Regions from separate parts of the Homo sapiens genome. Here region 1 is linked to region 2. Evidence: fine-mapped expression QTL. A gene starts in region 2. The other region holds a variant in brackets. All regions are shown on one strand. Distances are between the middles of the regions.

Evidence for each region.
Region 1: its variant is fine-mapped to the expression of GYPC in whole blood (TOPMed, PIP above 0.99).

What each region holds. Positions count from the first base shown.
Region 1 is chr2:126,687,255-126,703,331 of GRCh38, forward strand. GYPC (glycophorin C (Gerbich blood group)) reads left to right here. Exons shown (of 4, transcript NM_002101.5): 2 at 3,001-3,057; 3 at 6,610-6,693; 4 at 8,692-9,413. The coding sequence ends at 8,888. It also overlaps the pseudogene RNU6-675P. Among named protein-coding and RNA genes, the nearest start is that of GYPC, 39 kb to the left of the region's middle. The variant G/A (reference allele first, on the strand shown) is at 6,684.
Region 2 is chr2:126,649,654-126,665,730 of GRCh38, forward strand. GYPC (glycophorin C (Gerbich blood group)) reads left to right here and starts at 6,505. Exons shown (of 4, transcript NM_002101.5): 1 at 6,505-6,659. The coding sequence starts at 6,611. RefSeq lists a cis regulatory region at 1,411-1,750, enhancers at 6,155-6,444, 7,238-8,077, 7,535-7,784, 7,975-8,204, 14,889-15,048 and a silencer at 6,535-6,904.

The sequences.
Region 1 (16,077 bases), 38 kb after region 2:
TAATCCTGATGTCACCGCTTCTGGAAGCCCTCTTTACACCAGCACTTCCCAGCCTACAGCATGAATCAGAATCTACTATAGTAATTACTGGGTCCCAGTCCTAGTGTTTTTCTTCAGTAGGTCTGGGCTGGGGCCTGAGAATTTCTATTTCTAACAGGCTCCCAGAGGATGCTGTGTATCCAGAGACTATGCTTTGAGAATTGCTGTCTCACAGCATCCACACCTTCCCAGACAGCCTTGAGCTTCCTCTCTATGCTGATTCTGATCTATCAATATAGGGCAGCTCTGGTTGGGCTGAAATGTCACTCCCCTGGAGTCTGTCACATTGTGAAACATGTGTAAATTCAGCTCCACACACTTGGTGGGGTGGGGGGCATGGAGAGAGTAGTTCCAGCTGAGGGAACTTTCCTGCCCACCACGCTCCTCAGAGGGCATGAGCTTGGAGGGAGCCCACATTGGGAGGCCCAGCTGGCAATCCCAATGGTCTCCCAATGAGGCCCCGAAGCTCTCAGGTCCTACCTCCCCTCCCAGCCTGGCTGCCCTGCTGGAAGTGTGTGTAGTCTCCCAGTATACAGATTTGAGTACAAGGTCCCTAACCAGAAGCCAAGAAATGCACCCCAAGTTGTTCAAGCCAAATATCTCACCTGGAAACCAGCTTACCAAGGCTCTACACTTTGCAGTGCCCTGTAAGGCTAAACACACTGACTCAAGGCTGCCAGGGCTTCAAATGATTGACTTCTGACTCTCAAGGTACAAGCCGGGGAAAATAACACTTTTCTGGGACGCAGCTGCCAAATCTGGAAAATGGGGCTAATAATAACTCCTATCGAATGGAAATGTTGCAAGGTCTGAGTTAAAATACATTAAATGTTGAGAGCAGCACCTGGCATTTAGTATGAAATTATTAACTGTTTTAAAGGAAGGGAAAATAACAGTCCCTTCTAACCCTGATTGTGTTGGACAAACTGTCATAAGAAATGCTGGTCTTTACCTGGAAAATTTCTAAGGGCAGTTCTGGGTATTTGAGCTTCTATAACCATCCATGCCTACTTAAGCAAGATGTTATTCTTTCTTTCCGAACTTTGAGGTGCATAGTGGTTAGAAAAGTCTAGAACTCCACCACTAAATCCATTCATTTATACATGCATGCATTTACTCATGCATTCAGTGAATATTTATTGAGTACCTACTATGAGCTAGATACTAAATTGGAGGCTGCACTTGTTCACTGTAATAAAGTCTAGCACCCACTTGAACTTGCTATGGCTCCTGCTTCAGGTCTTGCTACTGAGAAGCACTGTGAATGCTGGATCCTCTACCCTGCCTGGTTCCTGGTTCCCAAGGTGCTGACTCCAGACCCAGAGTTCACTGGGTCTCTTGGCGGCCTCAGTGCCTTGTATTATCTTCTTCCCCACCTCCAAGCTCCTTGGTGGCCCCAGACACCACTAGCTTGGCCCACCTGCTTCCTGCTGTGGACCCCTAGCTGGGAGTCTGTTTTCCCCTCACCCACTATGACTCCTGACTCCAGCAGGCAGTTACTTATAAGAAAGAGGCATCTGGCAGCTGCACTGGGGAGAATGACCTCATAGCACTATAATTAAAGTGATCATCTGAGTGGAAATGACTATTATGAAGCATCCTTCTCTGTTTTATTATGTAGAGCCATTGTAATGGGAATACGGGATTTCCTATGTTAATGCTGATATTTCTGTGATCCAATAAATCCTTCTTCACAATCATCTCCCAGAGGAAAGAAGGCATTCTGTGCAGCAGCTCTAGGAAACATCAGGTCCCCAATGTCCTAGACATCCTACCCTCTTTGGCCAGGCCATTAAGCTGTGAAAAAACACACTCAGTAACTTGGATAATGTCATAGAGTGGTCCTTCCCACAGCAGAGTCAATGTAAAGACCTATGGGAGGGCTTCAGGAATGACTCCTCAGACAGGAGCCCTGGGAAGGGCTTCTCCAAGAGAGAAAGTGCACTCCAGAGGCAAGAGCACTGGCCAAGTCCTGACCTGATACCGGATGAGCTGTGTGATCATGGGCACATCACGTCTCTGAGCCTTGGTGTTCTTCCTGTGAGATGGGCCAATAACACCAGGCACCTCATAGGATGGATGTGAAGACTGCATGATAGAGTAGATAGAAGGCAGTTAAAGCAACACCTGGTGCTATGGTTTGGATGTGGTTTGACCCTGCAAAAGCTCATGTTGAAATTTGGTTCCCAAGGTGGCAGTGATGGGAGGTGGGACCTAGTGGGGGATAGTTGAGTCACAGGGGCAGATCCCTCATGCATACATTAATACCCCCTTGAGGGAGGGAGGGAGTTCTAGCTGTCGTGAGACTGGATTAGTCACTGGAGAGCAGGTTGTTATAAAAGCAAATTCAGCTTTCTAAACTCTCTTGCTTTCTATATCACCTTGTGGTCTCTTTGCGAATGTCAGATCCCCTTCTGCTTTTTGCCATGAGTGGGAGCAGTATGAGGCCCTCACCAGATGCAGCTGCCCAATTTGGACTTCCCAGCCACTAGAACTGTGAGCCAAACAAACCTCTCTTCTTTACAAATTACCCAAGTATTCAGCTATAGCAACTCAAATTGGACTGAGACACCTGGTGTGAGCATCAGACACTCCACAAACATTCTTTCTTAAACACAACAAGAGTCCCTGCCTTCATACACAGCACAGATATCTGTTGAGCATCTACCACATGCAGGCACCACTCTCAGTGGAGGCATACTGCAGAGAACTTAAATGGGCCTGGAGTGACCTGGTGGTTCAGGTTCAAACAGTTCCATCCCAGTCAGTGACCAAGCAGAACCTGGTTCCTGGTCTGTGCACCCCTGCTAGGAGTCGGTGGGTGCACCACACTGTCTCTGTCCACTTGAACCCATTCTCAGAGCTGCTCACACCTGAGCAAAGGATGCAGCTTGGGCCAAGGTGCTGCTAGGCATGGAGAGTCTTCCTCTCTGACCTCAGATTCTTGTCCTCTGTTCACAGAGCCTGATCCGGGGATGGCCTCTGCCTCCACCACAATGCATACTACCACCATTGCAGGTGAGTTCTCATCACAGAGCCTCACCATAATGGAAACTGCCGTGACTTCAGATGAGCTCTCATCACAGAGCCCTTTAAGCAGCCAGGGTTGGGGGACTTGGTGAAAACATCCAGGGGAGAACTGACCTAAGGACTTGGACAGGGGTGGCTGTGGCCATTTTTTCTCTCCCTCAGAGGTGGTTTTGAATGTGGAATGGAGGAGTCTACCCCTGGGTAAATAAATATACATAGGTATGTCATATGTATCTGTATTTATATTTATTGGCCTTTCTCAGGGCTGTTGACTCACAGGAACTCAGGAGCTGGAGAGGCAGCAGTTTTGGTGAGGGAGGTTGAGGGTGGAGGTGAGATGAGGGTAGACTGACCAGGCTACTTAGACTTCTCCACCGTCTCCCTCATCCCACATTATTTTCTTCCCTGGGTCCATGACCCCCAACCCTCCATCCTCAAGGAAACTTGAGCCTGCCTTTGCCTTGCTTTGAACCCTGAGCAACGGGCTCCCCATGGGTCATGGCTGTGACTGCAAACTGTGTTTGAAGAACAACCAAGTTTGGGAGGTGCTGTGTGCTCTGCGACCTTCTTTGAGATCCACACTTCTCAGCAGCTTATTAATAACTCAGGAAACATCTACAATTTGAAAAGAAAGAAAAAGCAGCAGAAGCAAGCAATCAAAGACACCTGTTGGACTCTGTGTAACCTGGCATTCTCCAACTCATTGCACCACTGAGCTTTTATTCTTCCTAGGTGATATTATTAACATTATGCAGATACAAGTGTTCCCCTGAAGGCAGTAGGAAGTTTAGGAAATTGTTCTATAAAGGTGGGACTTGGGAGCAGTTTCAGACTTTCCATATTCTTCAGCAGTCCCTCCCCAAGGCCTCCAAATAAACCTGCATTCTAAGAAAAGACAGAGGCTTGCTCTGCAGCTTCAAAGTAAATGCCCAAACTCAAAACACCCCCACCCCATGAGACTGCTGCCCCCTCACTCTCAAGGTCCTGAGTGATCTGACCCCTCCTGAGCAGCCTTACACTGTACTTCCCCACCCCTCTGGAGTCCCAGCAGAAGTGAGGGGTGACTGCCCCTCGCACAGCCAACACCTTGGCATTCTCTGCGTTACCCTCTCCCACTTCAGTCCTTTGTGTGGCCAAGTCCTGCTCCTCCTGCAGACTCACCCCAGTCCTCAATCGCCAGGAGGGAATGGGAGCAGGGTAGGCTGAGGAGCAGTCATCGGGCCATTGAAAAACACAAACCACACAACCTGCCCCAAGCACAGTTAATAGCCTCATTTTTCCCCCTGTATAGTGTACATACAGCAACCAGCTCTGCCCTGTTTTCTGGGACTTCCCTGGTTTTAGAATGAATAATCTCCAAGCAGTGTTCTTGCAACTGTTGCAAGGACCATGTTAAATTGCTTTAAATGTTGAGACCTGCACCTGGCACCTAGTAAGCGATTGTTAGTTGTTTTAAAGGAAGAGGAAATAACAGTCTCTTCTAACGCTGATTGTGTTGGACAAACTGTCCTAATAAATGCTGTCTTCACCTGGAAAATTTCTGAGGGCAGTTCTGGGTATTTGAGCTTCTATAACCATCCATGCCTACTTAAGCAAGGTGTTATTCTTTCTTTCTGAACTTTGAGGTGCTTGTTGATTGGAAAAGTCTAGAACCCCACCACTAAATCCATTCATTTATATATGCATGCATTTACTCATGCATTCAGTGAATATTTATTGAGTACCTACTATGTGCTAGATACTAAACTGGAGGCTGCACTTGTTCACTCTATATAATAAAGTCTAGCACCCACTTGAACTTGCTACGGCCCTTGCTTCAGGTCTTGCTACTGAGAAACACCGTGAATGCTGGATCCTATACCCTGCCTGGTTCCTGGCTCCCGAGACCCAGATCCTGAGCCAGTGTTCACTGGGTCCCTGGGCTGCCTCAGTGCCTTGTATTATCTTCTTCCCCACCTCCAAGCTCCTTGGTGGCCCCAGACACCCCTAGCTTGGCCCATCTGTGTCCTGCTGTGGACCCCTAGCTGGGAGTCTGTTTTCCCCTCACCCATTATGACTCCTGACTCCAGCAGGCAGTTACTTATAAGAAAGAGGCATCTGGCAGCTGCACTGGGGAGAATGACCTCATAGCACTATAATTAAAGTGATTATCTGAGTGGAAATGACTATTATGAAGCATCCTTCTCTGTTTTATTATGTAGAGCCATTGTAATGGGAACGTGGGATTTCCTATGTTAACACTGATATTTCTGTGATCCAATAAATCCTTCTTCACAATCATCTCCCAGAGGAGAGAAGGCATTCTGTGCAGCAGCTCTAGGAAACATCCCGGTCCCCAATGTCCTAGACATCCTACCCTCTTTGGCCAGGTCATTAAGCTGTGAAAAAACACACTCAGTAACTTGGATAGTGTCATAGAGTGGTCCTTCCCACAGCAGAGTCAATGTAAAGACCTATGGGAGGGCTTCAGGAATGACTCCTCAGACAGGAGCCCTGGGAAGGGCTTCTCCAAGAGAGAAAGTGCACTCCAGAGGCAAGAGCACTGGCCAAGTCCTGACCTGATATCGGATGAGCTGTGTGATCAAGGGCACATCACGTCTCTGAACCTTGGTGTTCTTCCTGTGAGATGGGCCATTAACACCAGGCACCTCATAGGATGGATGTGAAGACTGCATGATAGAGTAGATAGAAGGCAGTTAAAGCAACACCTGGTGCTATGGTTTGGATGTGGTTTGACCCTGCAAAAGCTCATGTTGAAATCTGATTCCCAAGGTGGCAGTGATGGGAGGTGGGACCTAGTGGGAGATATTTGAGTCACAGGGGCAGATCCCTCATGCATACATTAATACCCCCTTGAGGGAGGGAGGGAGTTCTAGCTGTCGTGAGACTGGATTAGTCACTGGAGAGCAGGTTGTTATAAAAGCAAATTCAGCTTTCTAAACTCTCTTGCTTTCTATATCACCTTGTGGTCTCTTTGCGAATGTCAGATCCCCTTCTGCTTTTTGCCATGAGTGGGAGTAGTATGAGGCCCTCACCAGATGCAGCTGCCCAATTTGGACTTCCCAGCCACTAGAACTGTGAGCCAAATAAACCTCTCTTCTTTATAAATTACCCAAGTATTCAGCTATAGCAACACAAAATGGACTGAGACACCTGGTGTGAGCATCAGACACTCCACAAACATTCTTTCTTAAACACAACAAGAGTCCCTGCCTTCATACACAGCACAGATATCTGTTGAGCATCTACCACGTGCAGCACCACTCTCAGTGCAGGCATTAGGCAGATAACTCAAATGGGCCTGGAGTGACCTGGTGGTTCAGGTTCAAACAGTTCCATCCCAGTCAGTGACCAAGCAGAACCTGGTTCCTGGTCTGTGCATCCCTGCTAGGAGCAGTGGGTGCGCCGCACTGCTCCTTTCCACTTGGACCCATTCTCAGAGCTGCTCACACCTGAGCAAAGGATGCAGCTTGGGCCAAGGTGCTGCTAGGCATGGAGAATCTTCCTCTCTGACCTCAGATTCTTGTCCTCTGTTCACAGAGCCTGATCCAGGGATGTCTGGATGGCCGGATGGCAGAATGGAGACCTCCACCCCCACCATAATGGACATTGTC[G/A]TCATTGCAGGTGAGCTCTCATCACAGAGCCCTTCAAGCAGCCAGGGTGGGGGGCCTTGGTGAAAACATCCAGGGGAGAACTGACCTAAGGACTTGGGCAGTGGTGGCTGTGGCCATTTTTTCTCTCCCTCAGAGGTGGTTTTGAATGTGGAATGGAGGAGTCTAGCCCTGGGTAAATATATATATACATGCATACATCGTACGTATCTATGTATGTATTTATTGGCCTTTCTCAGGGCTTTTGACTCACAGGAACTCAGGAGCTGGAGAGGCAGCAGTTTTGGTGAAGGAGGTTGAGGGTGGAGGTGAGATGAGGGTAGACTGACCAGGCTACTTAGACTTCTCCACCATCTCCCTCATCCCACATTATTTTCTGCCCTGGGTCCATGACCCTCAACCCTCCATCCTCAAGGAAACTTGATCCTGCCTTTGCCTTGCTTTGAACCCTGGGCAAGGGGCTCCCCATGGGTCATGGCTGTGACTGCAAACTGTGTTTGAAGAACAACCAAGTTTGGGAGGTGCTGTGTGCTCTGCGACCTTCTTTGAGATCCACACTTCTCAGCAGCTTATTAATAACTCAGGAAACATCTACAATTTGAAAAGAAAGAAAAAGCAGCAGAAGCAAGCAATCAAAGACACCTGTTGGACTCTGTGTAACCTGGCATTCTCCAACTCATTGCACCACTGAGCTTTTATTCTTCCTAGATGATATTATTAACATTATGCAGATACAAGTGTTCCCCTGAAGGCAGTAGGAAGTTTAGGAAATTGTTCTATAAAGGTGGGACTTGGGAGCAGTTTCAGACTTTCCATATTCTTCAGCAGTCCCTCCCCAAGGCCTCCAAATAAACCTGCATTCTAAGAAAAGACAGGCTTGCTCTGCAGCTTCAAAGTAAATGCCCAAACTCAAAACACCCCCACCCCATGAGACTGCTGCCCCCTCACTTTCAAGGTCCTGAGTGATCTGACCCCTCCTGAGCAGCTTCACACTGTACTTCCCCACCCCTCTGGAGTCCCAGCAGAAGTGAGGGGTGACCGCCCCTCGCACAGCCACCACCTTGGCATCCTCTGCATTACCCTCTCCCACTTCAGTCCTTTGTGTGGCCAAGTCCTGCTCCTCCAGCAGATTCGCCCCGTCCTCAGTCCCCAGGAGGGAATGGGAGCAGGGTAGGGTGAGGAGCAGCCATCAGGCCATTGAAAAACACAAACCACACAACCTTCCCCAAGCACAGTTAATAGCCTCATCTTTTTTCCCCCTGTATAGTGTACATAGAGCAACCAGCTCTGCCCTGTTTTCTGGGACTTTCCTGGTTTTAGAACGGAAAATCTCCAAACAAGGTTCAGTCCTGGGGTATGATTCTAACGTGTCTGCAGAGTGCTTAGAGTGGTTAGTAGCAGAACTGTGAGGAAGAAAAAGAAAAGGGAGGGAAGGAAGGAGAGGAGGGAAGAGGAAAGGAGAATCATTTTAGGAAGGCACAGGTTACAGTGCCACCACACAACAGGTTGGTGAAGCATGGGGAAGGAATGAACTGGCCTGTTTGGTGTTGGTACAGTTGTCTCCAGTGTACACGGTTCAACTTATGAGTTCTTGAGTTTGGAATGGCGTGAATGCAAAAGCATTCAGTAGAAACGGTACTTTGAATTTTGAACTTTGACCATTTCCCAGGCTGGCAATATATAGTATGATACACTATATTATAAAATAGTCTCTGGGTCAGATGATTTTGCATGACTTTAGGTTAATGTTAAGTGTTCTGAGCCTGCTTAAGGTAGGCTAGGCCAAGCTTCGATGCTCAGTAGGTTTGGAGTATTAAATGCATTTTTCATTTACAGTATTTTTAACTTATTATGGGCTTACAGGAACCTGGCTCCCATCATAAATCAAGGAGCATCTCTTTTGGTTGTGGCATTGTATCTGTCCTCACACAACCCCTGTGGGTCTTGACCACCATCCCAGGCCCCAGAGCCCCTGCCTCAGACTGACCCTTGCACCTCTTCCCACCTGCAGGTGTGATTGCTGCTGTGGCCATCGTCCTAGTCTCCCTCCTCTTCGTCATGCTGCGCTACATGTACCGGCACAAGGGCACGTACCACACCAATGAGGCCAAGGGCACGGAGTTTGCTGAGAGTGCAGATGCAGCCCTGCAGGGAGACCCTGCCCTCCAAGATGCTGGTGATAGCAGCAGAAAGGAGTACTTTATTTGAGGGACAACAGACTTCACTTCCCTGAATGCCTCCCCCATCTCCATCAGGAAAAATACACCCCATCGCCCAGCACCCCTGCTGATACCACCAGACAGAGAGAGAGAGCACTTGATTCTTCCCGAGATAGCCACCTGGAAACACTAGGTGCCTGCCCAGGGAGGAACGGAGGAGGACTCGCGCTACAAGAGGCCACTCCCAGGGACCCAGGGAGGCGATGGCCACCCCAGAGGCCACCTTTTGCTCCACGGAGGTGGGAGAAAATCTGGGCACATGGGGCCCCCTGGGCAGTGCAGGACAACATCAGCTCACTGGCAGGAAAGTCCTTGTTGAGGGTGAGGGGGTGCTGGGGTACCCGGGGGCTGGGGAAGCAAGGAAATAAGTCATCTGTATGCTGACTGGGGATAATGGCATCAAATGTCAGTCCTTGACATTTGGGGGGAACAGCAGGTGCCAGAGCTAAAAGGTACCTTTGTCTGCCATTGATCCAGCTCAGAACGATTGGAAATAAATTTGAAATGTAACCGAGCATTCCGAGTCCAACAGTATTACTGTAGTTATCTGGGGAAAGATAAACGCCACCCAGGGCTTGCTTTTCACCTGTGCAATATTATATTCTCTGACGGGGCCAGGACAGTTCATTTCTGGCTCTTGTGGGGGCCAGTTCCCAGAGAGCACAGCCAGTACAGGCGGCTCCCAAGCCTGCCAAGGGAGGAAGGACAAGTGACCAGCTTTCCTTTCCCTACAGGGGCACCAGCTGCAGGAAACAAAAGGAAGGGTGAAATGTCCCTCTAGAAATAGCCGTTCCCAGTGGCCAGGGCACTAGCTGAAGTGTTGATTTTCCAAGGTGCAGTATTAGAACAAATGGACCTGATCCAAAAATATGAGTGAGTCTTGTCCTTCCAATCACAGTGACCGTGGCACCCAGGGGTGGAAGCAGAGGCTGCAGAGCTCCGCTCGATGGCTTTGGGTCCCAGCTCCCCTTTCCTGGTCCCAGGACCTTGAACAACTTGTTTGACCCCTCTGGCCCCCGTGTTCTCCTCCCTCACGTACAAATGATGCTGATAATGACACCTCTGTTGTGCCTGACTCCCAGCGTTGAGGGTCAAGTGCTCAGACCTCCCTGTCTTCCAGTGTCAGCAACTGTGTGCAGCGGTAAACAAACATTCTTCATTGCACTACTTCTGCACACTTCCTGAGGAGTAGCTGTCACTCAAAATCACAGAGTAACAGGAAGAGAAGATGAACTGGTTAACCATCCCCTTCCAGGCGAGTTTTTCCAAGATTCCCAACAGCTCAGCTGTCACTCCAAGGACCAGCAGCTATGAGGTTAAAGACTGCACGCCAGGTGCTGGGGTCACCTAGGTACTCCCTGGGGCTCAGGATTCTTGAGGCTGCACCATCTCCACTTGGGAGTTGGCAGAAAGGTCCCAAAGATCTCCCTGGGAGGATTACGGGGAATGTGAGCTCAGTGGGGGGTCCACCTGTCAGAGGAGCTGGCAATCCTGGGGCCGTGGTGGGGGAGATGAGCTGGGAGCTCACAGAAGCAGTGATGGCAGAAGCCTGGTCCAAAAGTGAGACCTTTTCCTGGTGACCCGAGCTCGCAGGCCTTCATCTATGAAATAAAGGGCTTGGCTGTATCTGCATGGCCCACACTGATCTTCAGAACACCAGTGTGGCAAAAATGGCGATAAATAGGCCCAATGAATATGCACAAGTCAGTTTAGAAAATGATGTATCATGTAAAGTGAAAGCAGTGCAGGCTCCTCAGCGTCTTCACTGGCCCAGTGTGGATGCTGACACTGGTGGGAGGGGAGCTGTGCACATAGCCTTTCCCAAGCATGTTGAACCAGAGACCCCATTTGCTCACACGATACCTGCTAGGAACTCGTGGACCAAGTGGTCCTCGGAGCACATTTTGGAAACACTCAGGTAAATGGTTTCTAACATCCCCTCCTGTGGCAATGCCATTTCAGGTTTTTGAGCACCCACATCTTCCAGGTTTGGGAGCACAGATCACTGTCCAGTGAGCACAGAGGAGGCACCAGAACCTACACATAGACACTCATTGGGGTGAAAAGGCTCCAGAAGAGGATGAGCCCAGGGCTCTCGAGGCCTCCTAGAGAGCAGGTGCCTATGTGGGGGAAGGATGATGGTAACTCATTCCTTTCTCCCTCATTGGGCCCAGGGGCTGTCTATACTAAGCTTGACTCCCTGGCCACTCACCTCCCCTTCCTCACCTCCCTTTATCCTCACTCTTTTGCCTGCCTAGTGTCCTGGAAAACAATTGAAACACAGTCTGCTCCCAGTCTACTGGGTCCCCAGACCCAGCCAGAATCAGGCTCAGCAGCAGTAGTGATGACATGGAAGCTGCAGAGCTGGTTTGTCCCAGGTGGCCTAGCTCAGATGCCACGAGGAGGGAACTGTTGCAGGCTAACTGCAGAGGCCAGATGGCCACACCAGAGAGCAGGGCAACTTAAAGAGATAATGCACACACACACACAGAGTGCACACTGGTGGACACTTGTGGGCAATTAATAATCCTCTCTTAGATTAGGGACCAGGTTTTTAAATCTGATACTTCCTCCAGCAATGCACTAAGTCATTCTGCAGCACGTCTGCAACCAGTGTTAGTTGGGGTAAATAATGCACAAATTTGCACACACCAAAGAGTCAAAAAGACTGTTAAGAAGGAAGAAAGAGGAGAGGAAAGGAAGAGAGGGGATGGGGCAGAGAAGGGCTGGAAGAAGAGGGAAAGGGACAGAGCTCTGTCTGTAGAAAATCCCAGCTTCTTTGCACATAAGCCTCCTTTAATCCTCGAAATAATCCTGGCAAGTGGATATCCTTATCCTCCCTTTAGATCTGTAGAAATTGAGGTGCAGAAAGGTCAATGAGCTTTACTGGAGGTCTCACAGTTTCTAATGGCAGAGGAGCCATTTAACTCAGGCCTGTCTGGCCTCCCTTCAGGAGGTTGAGATGAGTCAGCAGGAGCTGCCCAGGGAGCAGAGCAGGTGGCATCAAGACTCATGGATGCTGGCATGACTGACCAGTGCTGGGATCAGAGAATCCCCAGCCAGGTCTCTGCCACCCAGTGGCCCTGGACAGTGATGGCCCAGGCACCTCTGCCAGCATCCCCATCCCTAGTCAGAGCTGGCCTGGTTGAGAGGTCTCTCCTGGTGGCGAGAGATAATGCAGTGGAGCCTATCTGCTCTTGGTGGGATGATTAGCTTATAGAGATAGCAAGTGCTGCCAGCCCGGTCACACCTCATCCACACTTCCAGCACCCAGGACGCTTGCACCCAGGCCAGTCTTATGAAAAGGAAAGTGATCATCTAGATTACATCATGCCAAAGCATCCCTACCAACACTTCTTAGATGATTTGTGCTTCTTCAAAGTGCTCATTCCCAAACTAAGAGTATTTAGTGATTAAATTTCAGATTCAGAGACAGATAGATAATATATATGTGTGTGTGTCTGAGTATATAGCTGTAATCCACAAACATTTATTAGGTACCATGTAAGTGTTGAAATTACATAGCTGAATATAGCAGCCTCTGCCTTCAGGGGTCCCTAGCTTAGGGGAGAAGATAAACATGTAAATATATATAAGCCCTAAAGTATTATGGATGCTGAGAGAGTAGTGATACAGATCAATTTAAAACACTAAGGAGAGAGAGATCAGTTCTATCTTGGGAGTGAGATGGACTTAGGAAAGGCTTTAGAGAAGAAGGGAGGCTTGGGCCAGTTGCACAGTATATAAGGGCTTGACCACAGAGCGGCTTCAGTCCCAAGCTAAGAAATTAGGACTTTGTTGCATAGGTAATAAAGAGTCACTGAAGGAACAAGTCAGTCTCTATCATATGGATAAGATAATGATCAAGTTAAACAAGACAAAAGATGAAAATGCACCATGGAAATTCACAAAGGGGCTTCAAAAGATCTAGCAAGGCTCAGACCCTGCCTGTGGAGCTGGAGGCCTCCCCACCCTGGGGCTCACCCACTCCTCCAGCTGCTCCATTGTTTAGTCTGAATTTCACATGACTTGGCCCATCCTGCCTGGAGAGAGATGGATCTCATCTATTCACCAGAAGAAGCGGCAGGAGGTCAAGGCTTTGAGCCAATTGTTATGTAAATATTAGAGAGAATTTTTTCTTCTTTTTTTAATGGAAGGAACTCCCCTTCATGATTTTATCTTTTTGTCCTCCCTGGAGAGAATCTGCTCAATTGTTTTTCATTCCTTACCTAAAGATTTTTATCATCATAGCAACGGGAATGATTTAGGGGCCAACAGTACTTTAGCTGGCCCACTGCCACAAGTAGAACTACAGGCATTTTAATGTTTGCAATTTAGCATGTCAGCATGATGCTATGAAAAGAGAGTGGCTCTGGAATTGGACAGACTTGGACAAAAATCTCATCTCAGGCACTAACTAGCTCTGCGTGACCTAGGAAGAGTTACTTAACTTCTCCGTGCTCCACGGTTCTTACCAGTAACATGGTGACAAAATATTTGCATTTTCATGTTTTGAATAGTAAGTTAAAGGAAGATATAAACTTGCCAAGAATTGTGAAGGGTCTGAGGTTTTGCCCTGCTTTTAAGTGAGCAATTCGGCCTATACCAGTTTCATAGATGCTGACAGAAGACATGAGATACCTGGGTCAGAGATAAAGGCACTTACAGCCCAGCAAGCAGCATGACATCAGCATATTTGAATGGCATCTCTTCATCTCCAAGTTAGACGTGGGTGATGTGGGTGATCTCAGAGGATGTTTATCCATATGGTGGGTGGAGTTCCAGAAGAGAAATCTTGAACCAAGAAAATCAGAATCTCATAATGGGCAGTAAAATGCCTGCCTTTTGCACTGGAGGGAGCTACTACTGGGTCTTCCAAGTCTGTTTAATACACAAACATCCTGGAAAAGGTAGTCAAGAACACAGTGCAGTTCCTGCCTCACTCAACAGATGTGAAAAATGCAAGAGACCCATGGAGAATTGTCTCCCAAAAAGGTAGGCACTGCCTAACATTGTGCCTGGTACCTGTGAGTACTCAATAAATACATGTTGAATGAACAATGCAATGAACTAAATAACAGGGCTCATAGGTCTTTAAAGTGTCCCAGCTTTCTCTCCAGAAAATCAAAAACATCTTCTGTTTCTCAAACCACATGCAAGAGTTTAAAGCAGAAAACTTTTCTCCATCCTCTGGCCAGTGTATGAGAGATCTCACTGCAGGCTTGGTCTTTTTTATTGGTTTGCTATGACAGGAACACATAGAGGCATACAGCTGTGAGAATGTTTTGGTTCATGGGTGGATCCATAAATCCAGAGCCCTGGCAATAAGGTTGGGTGGAGTTCGCCAGCCTCTATTCTAAGATCATCCTGTAATCAAGAGGTCTCTTGCCAACATTATAGACCTCCAAAGCTGATGTTAAGATATGCAGATCTCCTAGTTTTTTTAGAACCAAATACAAAAAAAAAGCCACCTTTTATTTTTCAAGTAGCTGAAATTATTATCATTTTTTTTCTCTCAAAAAGTACTTAGAAACAAGTTCTATATTCAGCTTTCTCAAGATAAAGCTTCCTCTGGGCTTACTGAGATTCCCCAAGTCAGAGTGAGGCCACTCCTTTCTCCAGGGAAGGACCTTTTTTGTTTTGTTTTGTTTTGTTTTGTTTTTGAGACAGAGTTTTGCTCTCGTTGCCCAAGCTGGAGTGTAATGATGCAATCTCGGCTCACTGCAACCTCCGCCTCCCAGGTTCAAGCAATTCTCCTGTCTCAGCTTCCCAAGTAGCTGGGATTACAGGCGTCCACCACCATGCCCAGCTAATTTTTTGTATTTTTAGTAGAGAAGGGGTTTCACCATGTTGGCCAGGCTGGCCTTGAACTCCTGACCTCAGGTAATTCGCCCACCTCAGCCTCCCAAAGTGTTGGGATTACAGGCGTGAGCCACCGCGCTCAGCCCAGGAAGGACCATTTTGTTCATAGCTGCAGTGCACGGACATTGTCTTCTTAAGGTAACAAATGGAGGTGTTAGGGTGAAAGGATGGTAGGCATCCAGACCTCAGCTCCCAGGCAGAGATAACACCATTAATTCCTTCATTCGGAACACAAATGTTCTCTGCATTTACACTACAGGTGGTGCAATGCCAGAGATTTGGAGCTGAGCAAGGCCTTACTGGCTCCCTGGAGGACACTGGCTGCAATAAGAGATGTGTTAAAATAGTTCAAGCTGCAAGGGTTCCATCACAGAGGACCAAATGGCCTGAGGGGAAGTCAGGGAAGGATTGTTGGAGGGAGAATTCTGACATGGGTTTTGAAGGAGCTATCTAGGTGAGGGGATGACAAATGCAGAGAAATCGAGGTGATATTGGAACCTGCAAGTGTGCAGTTCTTCCTGCAGCTTCAGGCATGTATGGAAGTAACCAAGGATGACTCCGACACAGAGACTGCAAAGAACCAGCTAATGAGGGGGCTGGCCACTATGCTGTAATTGAAGGTGGTAAGAGCCCTTTACAGGAGGAAAGTGGGTGCAGATATGGTCAGATTTGCAAATTATGTTGCATCCAATGTTGAGAGGAATTAGAGGTTGTACTCTGGGGAGGAAGACAGCCTAGAAATTACTGAGGCCTGAACAGGGAAAAGCACCTTATGAGAGATCTTTCAGGATGAGACAAAATCCAGTTAATTTTTTTTTTAAATAAAAATATGGAACGCTTCATGAATGTGCATGTTATCCGTGCACAGGGGCCGTGCTAATCTCTGTATCATTCCAATTTTAGTATATGTGCTGCGTAAGTGAGCACCAAAATCCTCTTTTAACACAATTGTGAATCAATATGACCCTGAATTGGTTATGAAGCACCATGTGTACAGAACACAATAGCCCCTGGAGCAAAAGATCAAACTAGACCTGTTGAGTTTGTGGATGAAGACCGTTCATCTGCCTTTGTACTAAAATCTCTATGGAATAAACCAAGTTTTTAAGTATCACATAGACACATCTGCAGCTCCTCTGCAACAAAAGATACCTAACCAGGATCCCAAAGAGAAAATGAAAGCAAAGGATTCAGAAGGGCTACCTCATGAGGCCTGGCCTCTATGCCTCTGGGAGGCCAGGGGGAAGGCCATTCCACCCAGACTTTTGACCTGAGTCAGAAATTTTACCCTGCAAGTTTTCTTCTTTGGGATGAGT
Region 2 (16,077 bases):
ATGGGAGAGCTGAATGAGGATGTGGTGGGAATCGCCACCCCTGCATCTTTTAAGTCCTTGATGGTGGCAGTAATCTCCACAATCCCTCCAGGGATGTGGTATTCTTTTTGATTTGCAATTTTTCTAGGTGATGGCAGCTCCAATGGCTTCCATTTGGCCTTTCCCACAACAGTAGCCCTCACCCTACCAGTCAGGGAGCCAATGCAGGGGTTCTGCCAGCTGCTAAATATGTCTATACCAATTATGCATTCTGACACTGAGAAAATGACCACAGGATGAGTCCGGGGACCCACTGGGCCCACCGTAAGTCAAATCTGAGCTAAAACTCCATTAATTACCTGACCTCCATAAGCTCCTACTTAAACTGGAGAACCACAATGACAGTTTGGGTCCCCTGGAGTCAACGTCAGCTCAGAGCCAGTGTCCAGTAGTCCCTGAAATGTCTGATCATTTCCCTTTCCCCAGTGCACAGTTACCCTGGTAAAAGGCTGGAGGTCTCCTTGAGAAAGGATGAGAGAAAGATTCATTGCACAAACTGTCAGTAATGTATTGGGGTCCTTCATCAAGGGGACCCGGCCTGTAAACTGGGTCTGTAAACTGGCTCAAGTATGCAAATTGATTGAGGGGCCATGATTCTCTGTTTTCATAATTCAGATTAGTATTTTGTCCATTTGACCTAGAAGTTTTCCATTTGTATAATGTAAGTAGGAATGTGGTAGGCTTCCTATCAATTTCACTTCTAGGAACACCGTGATTATTTAGCTGATGCCAGAGCTCTACACAAGTCAGACTATTCTTATTGCCGCTTTGACTCTGCTGTCCATTACGGTAGCTATGGCCACCTTGCCTTTGACTGTTTAGTGCTGCCACGTGGCCCCTGCCACCTCAGGATCCAATTATTCCAATCGTATTTAAATTTTGTAGCTGAGTGACTGCAGTTCCCACAGTTAGATCTGACATACAGAGAAAAGCAATACAGGGCTCTTCAAAGATGCAGTTGCTGCCCTCAAAAATCTATTTCTCAAGGAATTGGTCAAGAGTATATCTTCTGGACCCTCCCAGTTGGGATGAGTAGGTCTAAAGTGACTAATGCACTCCACCATCCCAATCTCTCTAAGCCTCTGGATCCCTTCCTCTACATTAAACCAAGGGAGATCAAGCGTTTCCAGCTCACTCACAGTGGGCCATCTTTTAATCGATATTTCAGCTAACCAAGCAAATAAACTATTAGAACTTTTTTTTAACTCCCCAAGCTGCAACATTAAATGCAGAGTCCCTACTTAGTGGGCCCAAATCAATAAATTCAGCCTGATCCAACTCATGTTCCTTCCACCATTATCCCACACCCTTAATATCCATTCCCATGCCTGTGCTCCAGATTGCAGTTTACATAAATTAGAGAACTCAAACAGTTCTTTTCGAATGTAGTGCACCTCCTCATGGGTCACACTCTGCACCTCACCTCTAGGGGCCCACCAAGCCTTTAGTCTAGTTATAGGCCTAGAAGCAAACAGAGGTGTTGGGGGTGGCTTCTGAGGAGAATCAACATTATTTTGCCTGGCAACTGCCTCAGGCAGCGCAGGGTTTATCTCTTCAGACAAAGGTGGAAAGGCTGATAGCAGCATGGGTGGGGGAGAGGACGTTGCCACTACTGGGGATGGGGAAGCTGTTACTTCTGGCCAAAAATGTTCATCAGAGTTTATTAACTCAGTGTCCCCAGCTTCATCAGGGTCCTCCCACATGTCCCCATTCCAAGTTGCAGGGTCCCATTCTTTTCCAATCAATGCCCTCATTCTAACAGTAGACACCTGGTGAGGCTGTGCATGCATCTTTCATTGCAGGTCAGCCACTAGTATAAGAACTTGTGTCTGTTTTTCCACAATTTCAGCTCTTTCTCTATAGAAGTTCAGACTTTCGCTCAGGGCAGTCTTAGCAGATTTGAGGCTCAGTATCTGCTTCTGAAGCCGGGAGACAGAATCCCTGAGTTCATCATTTTTTTCATCACTTTGTCCCCGAACTTAGGGGCAACCAACCAGCTTCAATATGTTCCTTGTTTCTCCACATATGGTCAAAGGCATTATGTATAGGGTTACTAAACTACTGGCCTCTCACGAGTGAAGAATCAGGAGTGTCAAATGCATTTATTTTGCATAACTCTCTAAACAGTTCATGCCAAGGACTATCAGTGTTCTCCATACTATTAGAAGTAGATTCCTTAGCATTTTGGGGTCTAATCATCTTAAGCAGCCAACTCCAGAAACCCCAAAACAAATGAAGGAACTCCATCCTTCATATTCTGTTCCTCTAGAACCACTCCTGGTACGAATATCTGTGTTAGTCAAGGTTCTCTTAGAGGGACAGAACTAATAGGATCTGTATATATATATATAGTGTGGAGCTTATTAAGCATTAGCTTACATGATCACAAGGTCCCACAATAGGCTGTCTGCAAGCTGAGGAGCAAGGAGAGCCAGTCCAAATCCCAAAACTGAAGAACTTGGAGTCTGATGTTCCAGGGCAGAAAGCATCCAGCACGGGTGAAAGATGTAGGCTGGGAGGCCAGACCCATCCCTCCTTTTCATGTTTTTCTGCCTGCTCTATATTCCCTGGAAGCTGGTTAGATGGTGCCCACTAGATTAAGGGTGGATCTGCCTTCCCCAGCCCACTGACCCAAATGTTAATCTCTTTTGGCAACACTCTCATAGACATACCCAGGATTAATACTTTGTATCCTTCAATCCAATCAAGTTGACACTCAGTATTAACCATCACACCTCCAAATGAGGAAACAGTGTGAACAAAATATTCACCTAAAAGAAGCTGTGATTTGTAAATAAGCAACTGACAGCATATTCGGCCTCTCTGGTAATCAAAGAAAATGCTGACACAAATAACTATGTATGTTTCTTTTCTATGGAATTAACTATGATTTTAAGTTTGCTGTTTAATTCTGGCAAGAGACTCTGAGATAAACACTGGTACTCTTGATTGGGAAGAAAGTAAAGGTCACAGCCAGAACTTATGAATGTATCAAAAGCTTTAAATGCATTTGTAACCTTTGATTGAGTAATTCTGCTTGTCAGAATATACCCTAAGGAAAAAATTATGAAATCCAGATATTTATGTTCATATGGTTATCACAGCACTATTCAACCAGCAAAGAAAATGAAACAACCTAGTAATTAAAATGAGTTAAAGAGCTTTTCTACTTTTACATGAGAAAATGCTCATGACATAATGTTTAGTAGTAAAAGCTCAGCACTTGAAATCACGTATTCAGTAAAATCTCAAGAGTATAAAGCAAATATTCGTAAATGCATAAAAAAGACTAAAGGTAAATAACCTTAATGTGCTGGAGATTGCAAGCAATTCTTAGGGTTTAGGTATCTTTTTGGCTTTTTCTTTTTTATTTTTTCTTTTTGCACAAAGAGCATGTGTTACTGTGATGAGGGGCAAAACCTTTCATTAAAGGCCCAAGCAACATCTACCTACCACCATCTGTAAGGGCTCACCCAGGAGACAGCAACAGCAGCAGGGGACCGCCAACTCCACTCCCAATAAGGAACTAGCACTGAGGATTTGGAAGGCAGTTTCCCATGAGCAGTTTCTTCCCTGAAGAGGAAGAGAAAATTCATCTCCAGGACTGGATCATACCATCTCACATCTTGGAGGGCTCTGCAGCTTGTATCAGCCACAGACAGTCAATGAAGACACAGCTAGAACCGTCCATCCCGGCTGCACTGCAGAGCAAGTTCTTGTCACTGTGCTGAACTTCTGGGTTCTCATCTTTACAATGGACTCTTGGCAATACTCCGTTTAAGAGTATTTATGGGAACTAGACAAGATAAGAACTGGTTTATTATTGCAAGATATAGCTGAGTTTTTTTTTTAACTTCATTAATAAATATCCAACACATGAAGACACACTAATAATACATTTCTTGACTTATGTCAGACTGTTACCATATAATTAAATTTTTCACATAATTATTTTCCCTTCTTAAGAGTCATTTATTTAACATTAGACACTTTCATAGTTAAATTTTCTAAAATATGTCAAATGTTTCCCTGTTAGCTAATTTGCTACACACTAAGACACACTATTTACTTTCTTTTTCAAATGACTTGGGGTCCTTACTATGAACAAAGTATGTGTTAGAGGAGGAAGGGGGCCAATATCTTTAAGTAACTCCAGTGTACTCTCATTGTAATTACCTCTTTAATTATTATCGAATATATTACTCACAACAGCCTAACTTTGCAGATTGCTCCAATTTCCAGGCTGAGAAAAATGAGGCTCAGAGAAAGAAAGTGAAATGCTGAAGGTTACGCAGCTAGTAGGCAGTAGAGTAACTAACCCAGATTGAGTTCCAAAGCCCTGTGGTCTTTAATAGCGCAAGGAACTGTCACATCCTCCAGTGATGGCTGGAGCTGAGATTGCTTTAGTTCTGTAACAAATGCTACTTCGTTCTTGTATCTGACCTCTGCAGTTTGTGGGGCTTTCAATTTTCACTGTTTAGTTCGTTAGTTTATTAATTTTTGGCTTATTTTCTGTAAGGAATTCTCTGCAACATTTTGATGCCTTCAACCTGTCTTACCCTAAGAAATTAAGGAAATCTCTTATGATTACGTCTAAGGCCAGTAGGTTCTAAATGAGTCTGTAAAAGTGACTTCTCTAAGTGTGCTGCAATGACCTAATGACTTGTCCGTTGTTACCTGGCAGAACTTTCTGCTTCTTTCCAACTTTCCAGCTGCATTTCAGATAATTAAAGTTATTTTCTCTCAGGACAGAGGAGCGGGACTACTGTTCCACGTAGACGTATGTGTATGTATTACCAAAAAAAAAAGTTAAACTGTTAAAGTAATCACGGGTGCAGTGGCTCACGCCTGTAATCCCAGCACTTTGGAAGGCCAAGGTGGGTGGATCACCTGAGGTCGGGAGTTCGAGACCAGCCTGACCAACATGGAGAAACCCCGTCTCTACTAAAAATACAAAATTAGCCAGGCGTGGAGGCACATGCTGGTAATCCCAGCTACTCGAGAGGTTGAGGCAGGAGAATTGCTTGAACCCAGGAGGCGGAGGTTGTGGTGAGCCGAGATCACGCCGTTGGACTCCAGCCTGGGCAACAAGAGCAAAAACTCCGTCTCAGAAAAATAAATAAATAAATAAATAAAAATAAATTAATCATTACTCATTGCTGTTTATTAAATGCCTTTTCTGTTCCCACTGTGATTCTACAATCACTGCCTCTGTAAAACCCCGGAATGCAGGTGTTCTTGCCTCCATTTTATAGATGAGGAAATCAAGACTCAGGGCTTCCCCACCAGGCCAAAGGCATTCTGTGAGTAGTTTATTTCAATTCAACATGGCTGTGCTGCACATGGCAGTTGGAGTAAAGATCTATCAGCATCGGGGGTTCTTCATGATCTAACTAAAGTGAATCATGAGTGCTTTCCCACTGCGTCAAGAAGGCCTGGAGTTTGTGCAGCCCGGCTAGAGGTGAGCAAAGCCTCTGTGTTGCAAATCTCCAGGGCGCAGCCTCTCATTGTATTCAATGCAGATGACAGTCCCAAAGGCACCGCCCATACATTGTACAGACAGCTGGCCTGGCTCTCCGGATTGTGCAGGATAGGCCTTAATGGCAGAAGGTAGGGGAGAGGTGGGCGTCACAAAAGTGCTTGGGGAACTATAAAGTAAACAATGAAAAGCAGCACAGGAAGGTTCAGACATCACACAGGAGAAGCACAGGGTGTTCCCCTGGGTGGGGATTTAAAACAAGGGCCTCAAGTTCCCTGCCCTTGTCTCTGGGCAGAAGGGGCAGATAATGCTATGATACATTTTTTGTAGGTGGTGCCATTTGACTGCATTTAACCAACAAAGGTATGTATCGAAATCCACGTGGAGATTTTCATGGCAAAAGTAGAGCGAATTCACAAACTGCACTGTGTCTGGCAGCTTCAGACAAAAGCAATGGGAACAAATCACGACTCTTGTCCAGCAATTCTTCCTGTTTTGGAATGATCTTTGCTCAACAGCCCATCCATGAGTACAGGGCCCCCAAAGGCCAACAAGACAGGGACTCTCTCCAGGGACAAATGCCCCGCAGCTGAGAGAGGCCGCCCAGCTATCCAGCGGCCGCGCAGCCAGCCAAGATTTCAACACAGGTCTGCCCTATTTGGTCACCATCCCCGACAGTGCTGGGCCAGGCCATCATGTCACATTGGGGAGTTTTCCCTGCACTCCAGGGGGAATTCTCAACCACAACCTCTGTATCCGGTAGTGGCAGATGGAAAGAGAAACGGTTAGAAAAGCGTGGTTCTTGCGCAGGAAAGTTGGAGCAAAGAAGAGTTCAGAAGTGGGCGGGTGTGTGTTTAAAAAAAAAAAAGGGGGTGGAAACCCCACCAGCCAAGTCTGCAGAAAAAAAATAAATGAAGTCTGCCTATCTCCGGGCCAGAGCCCCTCCCCTCGGCCCGCGCGGGAGGAGTGTGACCCAGGTGCCGCTTCCTCTCGCCGCCGAGGGTCAGGAGCCCGGGAGCGCGACCCTCCCCCGGCCCGGCCTGGCCCGGCCTGGCCAGTCCCCGCGGTCTCTGCCCGGGCTGACGCCCAGGAATGTGGTCGACGAGAAGCCCCAACAGCACGGCGTGGCCTCTCAGCCTCGGTGAGTACCCGCCGTGGGGAAGGGTCCTGGGGACCCACTGGAGGCCGCGGCCCGCAGCAGCCAGGGGCCGAGCCACGGCCACGGACGCCCTGGTGTCCCGGTCCGTGCCGGGCCTCCAGGCGGAGGAGGCGTCCGCTGGGCTCAGATCCCCGACTCCAGCCCCGGTTCCCCGGCGCCTGGGCTGCGCGGAGTCCCTGTCCCGCGTCCCGGACCCCTACGCGCAGCCTCCACGCGCTCCGAGCTGGAGAAGCCGCCAGCCCGCCCTCCCAGGGCGTGTCGCCCGCTTTCTGTTTCTTTGTGCGGGGCATGTGAAATGTGTGGGGCCAGAATTGTCTCCCTAAAGAACAGTTAGGTGAGAGTTCACATCACAAGTTGCTTCTGTGCTGCTCCCCAGCCAGGGTCCGACCGGCCAGGCTCCGGTGAACTCCAGGCAACTCCAGCCTTGCCCAGGGACTTGCTCGCTCCGCTGGGCGCCGCAAAGGCACACAGATGCGAGGGAATCCTGCGGCCTGGATCCTTTGGGGATTTGTAATTCCTCGCTGCTGGTTTTCTCTTTTAAACCATCACGTTTTCTTGCTGAGAGGAAATCATCTGTGATGAAAGTCTTTGTAGATGCTTGGAAACATTGCTGGGCCTCTCTCTGCCCTCTTCCTCTGCCGTTGGACTTTTGCAATAAAAACTACCATTTGATTTTACCAAAAAACGTAATGTACATCCCTCTTACCCCCACCCTGCCGCGGTCTGATTCTTAGAGTCTGTCAGAGAGGAGATACCCTGAGCCTATCATGTGACAATGATACCTTATTGATATGATAATGATATGGGTATTGGAGACACCAACTCTTTTATAAGTCTTTGAAATCCAGGGGGTTGTGAGGCCTCACCCCTCACCCCGCCTGAGCTTGGAGCTTGGCGTGGAGGAGTGCTGCTTCGGTCTACGTGTGTACACGGCACTCCATGTGCCTGTGGTTGTGCTTGCGTCAGCCTGGGAGTGCGCAGGCATCAGTGGTGCTTGGGAGCGAGGCCCCTCAGTCTGCACTGGGATCATCTGCACTGCCTATAAACAAGGCAGCCTCTCTTAGCTCCAGTTTCCTCATCTGCAAAGTAGGAAAGTAGGAATAATAACAGGAGATAACTCATCCAGCAGCACGAAGTGCGTATAAATGTCCCGGCACGGAGTCTGACACATCCTAAGTGCTGGATCCGTGCTGGGCATGTTTATATAATTGCACATGAGACTGTGGTTCCCGGAGCACGTAACTTGAGCATATGTTTATGTGTGTGTATACGGCAGGTCCTGGGTTAAAGGGACAGGAGCCACTGTCATTATTCCAATTCAGTCACTGAGGAGGTGAGGCTGAGAGGCATTCTCATGTCTGAAGAGGATGGGCTTGCCTGACCCCCGCCCCCGTGCCCAGCCCAGCCCAGCAGCCCAAGCAGTTCTCCAGGACTCAGGTTTCAGACCTTCAACACTTGCCTTGGGAGACAAACAGCGGTGCAGCCCTTGCTTGCAAGCCATTCCACATTAGACTTCGGATTGATTTATGGCAGGATCCCTGCTGTGCGAGAACTGCAGGGGGGGTGGGGGGCGGCTATTTCTTGCTGCTAACTCAGGCAGGATGTGTCTATATCCTGTCTCAGTTTATGTAGCTGCTCATCAGAGCCAGAGGTTAGAGCGGAGAGGACCCACTTCCGCCAGGCCGGCCTGCTCTGCTCAGCTCAGCTGGGCTAGGCCCCAATGCCACAGTTACTGCGCGTGAGTCATGCACAGCAATCCATTGCCTTGCCCTTGGATGGAAGGGGTCAAGGCTCAGTGAGAAGACGGCCAGGTTTGGCAGCTTTATATAGAATTCACCGCCTCTGGCAGAAGCAGAGGATTGCATTAAGTGCCAAATGAAATTCCACCTCAGCCATTGCTCAATTCCTCCAGATGTCACTGGCACTGGGAGTCACATGATGCTGGTGGTCAGCAGCTGGACCCTTCCAAGGGTGCCCGTGGTTGGGCAAGTATTTCTGGGGACTTGCAGAGCTCCCTGGGGAGCAAAGGGTTGTGAAGTACAAGGCATTCTGCGCTTGTGGTGGGAACAAGTGAACCCATCTGCAGTGAGTAGGAAGAGGTCCCCTCAACAGAGGTGAGAGGTTGGGCCAAGTCAAGTCAGTTTGCCTCTTCAGGTGGCAGACCTGTATGTACATCTATGCCTCAAGTGCCTGTCTGAGGCCACAGCCAAAACATCTTCCAGTAACTGAGCATACCCAGTGGGCCAACAAGCACGCTCTAAATACAAAACCAAACAAACAGTAAAGTTAACAGTGAATGAAGAGTTAAAAATAGGAGAAAGACACCTTCTCCCTACCTCAATGGCAATTACTTTATTTATTGAGGATAATCCTTCTAGAAGTAAATTTGCTGATACAAATATTTCTTATTTTACATAATAAAAATGCATTTTATATATTTTACTTCATCTTGTTTTTTTTCCATCAGAATATCTCTTAAAGGTTATACCTTGTTATTTTCTTTAATCAGTTCCTCTGCTGATGGGCATTTAGGCTGTATGCAGACTTCATTTAATTTTTTTAAACCACACACAGCAGTCCTGTGACAATGAGTAAGGAGGATTTTACATGCATGTGTCTGTAAACTGTTAGGATAAATTCTCCCACCTCAGCATTTGATTTCTGGGACAAAGTGTGTATTCATTTAAAATGTTAGTAGATCTTAAGAAACTACCCTCCTAAAGGTCACACCGGTTTCTCATGCTCACAAATAGCCTATGAAAGTCACTATTTCCCTGCGTCCTCACTCACACTGCATTTTTTATCTTGGCCAAACTGAGAGGTAAAACAACAAAACAAACGCTGTCACTTTGGAATGAGCCTCTGTAATTAAGTGAGACTGAGCATGTTTTCTTACTTCCATAAGAGGTTGTATTACTTTTCGGGGAAGTGTCGGTTGATGCTTTTGTCCATTTCCTGTCAGCACCCCACCCCCGTGAGGAAACGTGCCCCAGAAGTGAAAGGACATGTCCTCATCACATGACGAGTGAGGGGCAGAGCAGAGGCCAGAGCAACATCCGTGCTGTGGAGTCAGCCCTGGGTTTGACTGCCCTCCAATGTTCACCAGCTTTGGGAGAGAGAGGAAATACCTCAGCACCTCAGTTTTCCCATCTGTGAGTGGGAATGATAACAGCCACTTCCCCAGAGTCACCCGAAGAGCAACAGCAGAAGGGCCTGGACCTGCTCCCAGTGGCAGAGGCTTGGGAGGTGGCTTTTGTTAGCGAAATTTATTGGAGCAAACCTGGCCTGAGGATGCTGGTAATTTCAGGAGTCACCCTCCAGACAGCTGTTGTTTTTCGCTTTTGATAAAATAACAACAAACTTAGATGCCGAGCCCTGGTAAGGGGCTTTCCTGGGTCTCCCCTGCACACCTGCTATGATAGGCATTTTCTTTTCTTTTTCTTTCTTTTCTTTTTTTTTTTTTTTTTGAGACAGAGTCTCGTGCTCTGTCACTCTGGCTGGAGTGCAGTGGTGTGATCTCAGGTCATTGCACCCTCCACCTCCTCCACCTCCTGCGTTGAAGAGATTCTCTGCCTCAACCTCCCAAGTAGCTAGGACTACCGGCATACGCCACCACACCCAGCTAATTTTTGTATTTTTTGTAGAGACTTTCGGATGAAACACCAGAGGCTCGGGGGAGATAAGCCGCCATAGGGCACCCAGACACTGAGGGCGCAGCCAGGCTGTAGTTACAAACTGCCAGACCCCACAGGCAACTGAGGCCAACCCAAGGAGAGAGTTGCAGGGTATGTGGGCCCACAGCTTGTATGTGCCAGGCAGGGCCTGCTGCTGTGGCTCTGCACACTGAGGAACTGCATGCACAGACACTCAGGACCCGCCTGCCTCCCCCAGCTCCTCAGCCGGGCCTGTGTCCCACCCCAGTCCACCGTTGTGTCCATGCTGTGCTTTCTGTGGTCAGGCCTGGCATGCTCTGGGCTGCTGCTGCCCTTGCCCGCCTTAGCAGCTGGCTCGGGGTGGCCCTCGAGCCCTCCCTCACGCACCGTCCCAGGCTTGCTGCCTTTCCAGCTGCACCTCTCACAACTGTTCACGACAGGCCCCTCAACACGCCGCGGGCCTGGCACACACTCACCTGCTGGTCTGCTAGGACCCAGTTTCCCAAGCCTAGAAAACGACCCACCACAGCCTTGGGCACAGTTTGCAGCCCTGACAGATTCCTGAGTCTGCCTTTTCCCAGAATTCTGACCTCTCCAGGGGCTCTGTGACCCCGCCTGTCCCCCACTCAGGGCCTGTCACAGACAGGGGTTTGCTGAGCCACTTTGAGGCAGGTGGATGATTGCAGGGATGACCCAAGGCCCACGCTCCCAGGACTGCCACCATTCCAATACCAAAAGAGCCTTTAAAAAGCCTTCACTCAGGAGCTCCTGGTCCAGAACTTGGCATGGACTTGGAGGCCAGTAAATACTAAGTTGAAATGGACAGGAGTCAACCCCAAACAAATTCTAAAGGCACAGTTGTTGGGCCCCAGGAATCCCACCTAGTCCTTCCCACCTTCTCACCCAGCTGGGGTTCATTTTCATATCCACTCCCTTCCCCTACCCCACCTCCCTCTCATCTTGGCCTGGGGTTTTCTTCAGATCCTTACATAATCGGAACTTCTGACAGAATGCTGGCTCCTCTCCTTAGACTATACATTTTCATTTTTCTACATTCTTCCAGAACAATGTTCCTATACAAAATCTTAACCCATGGCAGAAACTGGCAAGAGCCCATTTCCCATGTGCAGGCAGAGCCAGGCCGGCGACACTGGGTTCCTTCTTAGGCAAGGCGAGGGTTGGGTGGACCCTGGCATGACTTCTCCAGCCCCTGGAGAGCCTCTGCAGTTCTGACCCCTTCACAAGTGAGCCCTGGGCTTGGTGAGGGGTGCCTGCCTCGCCTGGCATCCCCCAGCTGTAGATGGGGGCAGAGCAAGACTTGCTGCCAACCTGCCTGGCTCTGTGGTCCCTGCTCCCTCTCCCGTTCTGCTGGCGTCACCACCCCTCCTTCAGAACTCTCTATGGAATTGCATTCTAGTCTCTCCTGCTTCTGCTTATGCATGTGAAAGCCAGATGCCCCTTCTCTCTCTCTCTTTTTTTTTTTTTTGATACGGAGTTTTGCTCTTGTTGCCCAGGCTGGAGTGCAATGGCGCAATCTTGGCTCACTGCAACCTGCGTCTCCTGGGTTCATGCAATTCTCCTGCCTCAGCCTGCCGAGTAGCTGGGATTACAGGCGTGCACCACCATGCCTGGCTAATTTTGTATTTTTAGTATAGACAGGGTTTCTCCATGTTGGTCAGGCTGGTCTCGAACTCCTGACCTCAGGTGATCCACCCTCCTTGGCCTCCCAAAGTGCTGGGATTGATTACAGGCATGAGCCACTGTGCCCAGCCTACCAGATGCCCCTTCTCTTATTGCCAAAACACTGTGGTCACACACTGCTTGGGGCCCAGCAGGCACAACAGTGACCTCTTTCCAGGGCTCAGGGGAGGAAGCTCCGCTTCGGGGCATGTAGAGCCAGCCCTGGGCAGGGTGGCCTTGGTTATCTCCCTGCACCCCTGGCACACCCTGATGGCTCTGTTTATCTGCACTTTGCACATGATGGTCTTGACTGACACATCCTCGCAGAGAGCCACTGCCAGGGCGCCTCACACCCGCTGCTCCCACACGCAGTGGGCATTTTTACGAGGGGCTCAGGCACAGGGTCTCCAGCTGACCCAGCCCAGCACTGCCACTCTTCCTCCTTGAACTCTGGCATGGAGAATCTTCACATTTTGTCAGCAGCCGATGAGCACATGTATTCTCAGCACAGTCTTAAAAGGGGGGAAATTATGGGTTGCCAGATCAAAACCTGATAAAACAATGATGCCTCTGGTGTGGGGCCCAGCCAAGCCCTTCTCCTGTATTCACCGGGCAACAGGGGCCCATTGGATATGAAATCCACTTTCGCTTGAGAAACTCATCCAGTGCTCTTGCTGAAACCTACACACAGGCCTTAGCAATGCTTGAAGCTTCAAGTTCAGGTTCCCCTTCTGTATTTTTTCTTAAACCTTTAGCTCAAATAGACTTTGTGTCAATTTGCTAGTGATAAAGGGTTAGCTTTGAAATCTGAGGATGAGGTTTTGGGTCTGGATCCACTATGAGCTGGCTGTGACCTGGGACAAGTTGCTGGTCCATCGTCTGGCACAGGGATGGCTTCACAGGGATGGGACCTGCCCAGCAGGGTCCCGCACTTCCTAGGTTTAATGCTCTGTCACTGCTATCTTCAAATTCTTCTCTTTTGAATAAGAGGCCTCATGTTTTTATTTTGCACTGGGCTCTGCAAATTCTACGGCTAGTCCTGAACCTGTCAATGGAGCTAATAACAGTCTCTACCTCAGGGCTTTGTTCGGAGGATTCAGTGCATTCTCACAGATAAACATCCTAGTGTAGTGCCTGGTATGTGCTCATAATTGTGCTTAATTGCTTCCGCTCACTGAGTGTGTGCGTGTGTGCTTAAACGCCAGCTTCCTCCCCACTGCCCTGCTCCCTCCTTGCTCTCCAGACTCCTCAGATGTTTGCCCCTTTGCCACTGAAAGTCATACCCAATGACAGGGGGCCATCTGCATCTGTGTGGTCCCACAGAGACCAGGGAAAGGCCCTCTCGCTCCCGATGCTGCTCCTTCATGGTTTTTATTGTTTTTGTTTTTCTTTTGAGATGGAATCTTGTTCTGTCCCCAGGCTGGAGTGCAGTGACATGATCTTGGCTCACTGCAACCTCCGACTCCCTGGTTCAAGCAATTCTCCTGCCTCAGCCTCCCGAGTTGCTGGGATTACAGACATGTGCCACCACGCCCAGCTAATTTTTGTATTTTTAGTAGAGATGTGGTTTCACCTTGTTGGCCAGGATTGTCTCAATCTCCTGACCTCCTGATCTGCCCACCTTGGCCTCCCAAAGTGCTGGGATTATAGGCATGAGCCACCACGCCCAGCCTCCTTCATGTTTTTATCCAAGAGTCAGCACTGCGGTGGAGACAGCCCAGAAAACACACGCAGGCCCTGCTCTTGGCCACGCACGCCAGCTGTGTGATGGGGAGCAAGCCTCTTACCTTCCGGAGCTCCATTTCCTCACATCACCCTGGAGAGAGGTCATCTTTGCCCCCACCTCATCGGGGCACCAGCCCCTCAACCACTCATACCTGGGCCATCTGGTTCTCCATGGAGAAGAGTAGGCTCTTTGAAAGCACCGTATGAGTGAAGGAATGAGTGAATGAGTCAGCAAACGGATGGAGGGATGTGAAGGTCCATCCATGTAGGCAAACAAGGTCTGCAAAGAGTGCCCTGGGCCCCAGCATTCACTGCACCCTCTCCCTGCCCTGGGCAAGGCCCTGACCCTGGTGCACTCTAAGCTCCTCTCAGCTCAGCCCCTGACCTCTCCCCTGTCTGCCAGTGCCCCTCCCCTGAGTGTGAAGCCGGGGGCCTCCTTCCCTCGGCTCACCTGGCCCTCATGCGCTCTACCTTTCAATGTCTTCTTTAGGCAGTCATTTCTCCTTTTTCCTTCATGCTCCCCTTTGAATGGGCTTGGAGCTGGGTCTCTCTAAGGTTCTGGTCTCTCTCTCTCTCTCTCTCTCTCTCTCTCTCTCTCTCTCTCTCTCTCTCTGGAGAAAGCTCCTTCTCAGCCTTTTCCAGCTTTTCCAGGTCCCAAACTCCTGGGAGGGGAGCCAGGCCTTGCTTGATCATGCCCTGGATGGATTTGTCATATTAATCCCTTTCCTTCAACTTCGGCAAAACTTCTCATTTTAGCGAAATTAATTTCAGTTATGGTTGAAAATCCTGAGTATTCCCTTTTTAAAAAATTTTCATAGTCTTTTTTTTTTCTTTGTCACTGATTCTTTACACTATCCTGAGCCATCCTCCTCATCTGGTGACAGTAGCCCTGTCTCAGAGAGTAGAGATGAGGCTCCACTCCACAGACGCCATCTCATTTAGCCCTCTGGCAGCCCCAGGGAGGTATTTTTATCTCCATTTTGCATGTGATGATACCGAAACTAGCAAGTGGATGTGACTTCCAGAGAACCTACCAGCCCCTCACACCTCCTTCTCTTCCCCCTCTACATTGAAAGCTCAGCCAGGGCCTGACCCCAGACGCAGTGCTCAGAGACCACAGTGCTTCTAGAGGCCCACAACAGTATTAGAGCTTCTTTTAAAATCAGAAGGAAGGAAATGAACCTCTAAGATCAAATAGTACATTTGCCTTTATACCAGTGCAGCTATACAATATGATTTCTAATATTTGGGAGGAGAAGGGACCCATAAGGTAAAGCACCTTGGCCCATGGAAGTCACCCTGTGACCTGAGCTCAGCCCATTGGAGGTTGAGGGGCTGAAGCCCACTGCCTCTGCTCTCCCTGCCTGAATCTGCCCCTTGCTCCCAGGGCTCTGATCCTCCTCTACGTTGGCAGTCCTGGTTCCTTAGCAGTTCTGTCTGTCACGGGAGGACTCCCTGGGCTGGGCATCTGCAGGGGCAGCCTCTACCTCTCCCTGTGGGACTTCACTAACACAGCTGGAGTAGATGCTAGGGAGGCTCAGGTCATGCACTACTTGCTGTCTTTCTCTCTCTCTCTCTCTCTCTCTCTCTGTGTCTCTCTCATTTTCTGTCTCTATCTTTCTCTTACTCTTTTGGCCTTTTAAGTCAGAAGAATAGGCTACTCTTCACTTACAAGTTTAAAAATAAGTTGTCTTTGCCCTATTTCATTATTGCAGAAGCAATTCATGTTCATTGTAGAATTGTAGGAACAAGATCAAGAGGAAGGATGTAGGAAGAATCTCTATGGGGAAGAGGGTGACTTTGAGATACAATCTCTTGCCCTGATCTGAGCTTTCAGTTACCTAAGGTACAGTACAGTAAGATACTGAGAGAGAGAGAGAGACTAGTTCATATAACTTTTATAGAGTACGTTGTTACAATTGTTTTACTTCATTATTCATTGTTGTTAATATCTTACTGTGTCTAATTTATAAAATAAACTTTATCATAGTTATTCGCATATAGGAAAACTATCATGTATGTAAGGTTCAGTCGTATCTCTGGTTTCAGGCATCCGCTGGGGGTCTTGGAAAGCATCCCCCATAGGTAAGGGGGAACCACCGATTCATGGGACAGATAGATGATCACCCAGTGGCAGCTCGAAGGGAGATTAGGGCACAGATAAGGCTGGAGGACATCAGTGTAAAGAGGCCACCCTGTGAGGGGCCCAGAAGGGAGCCCTGGAGACCCTCTGGGTGCATTGATCACCTCAGATGGGGGCCCAAGGGATGCCGACGCAGGGCAAAGCACTACAGCAGACTCGGCACAGGTGCCTGGGGCTGTGCACGCCCTGGCAAGCGCCC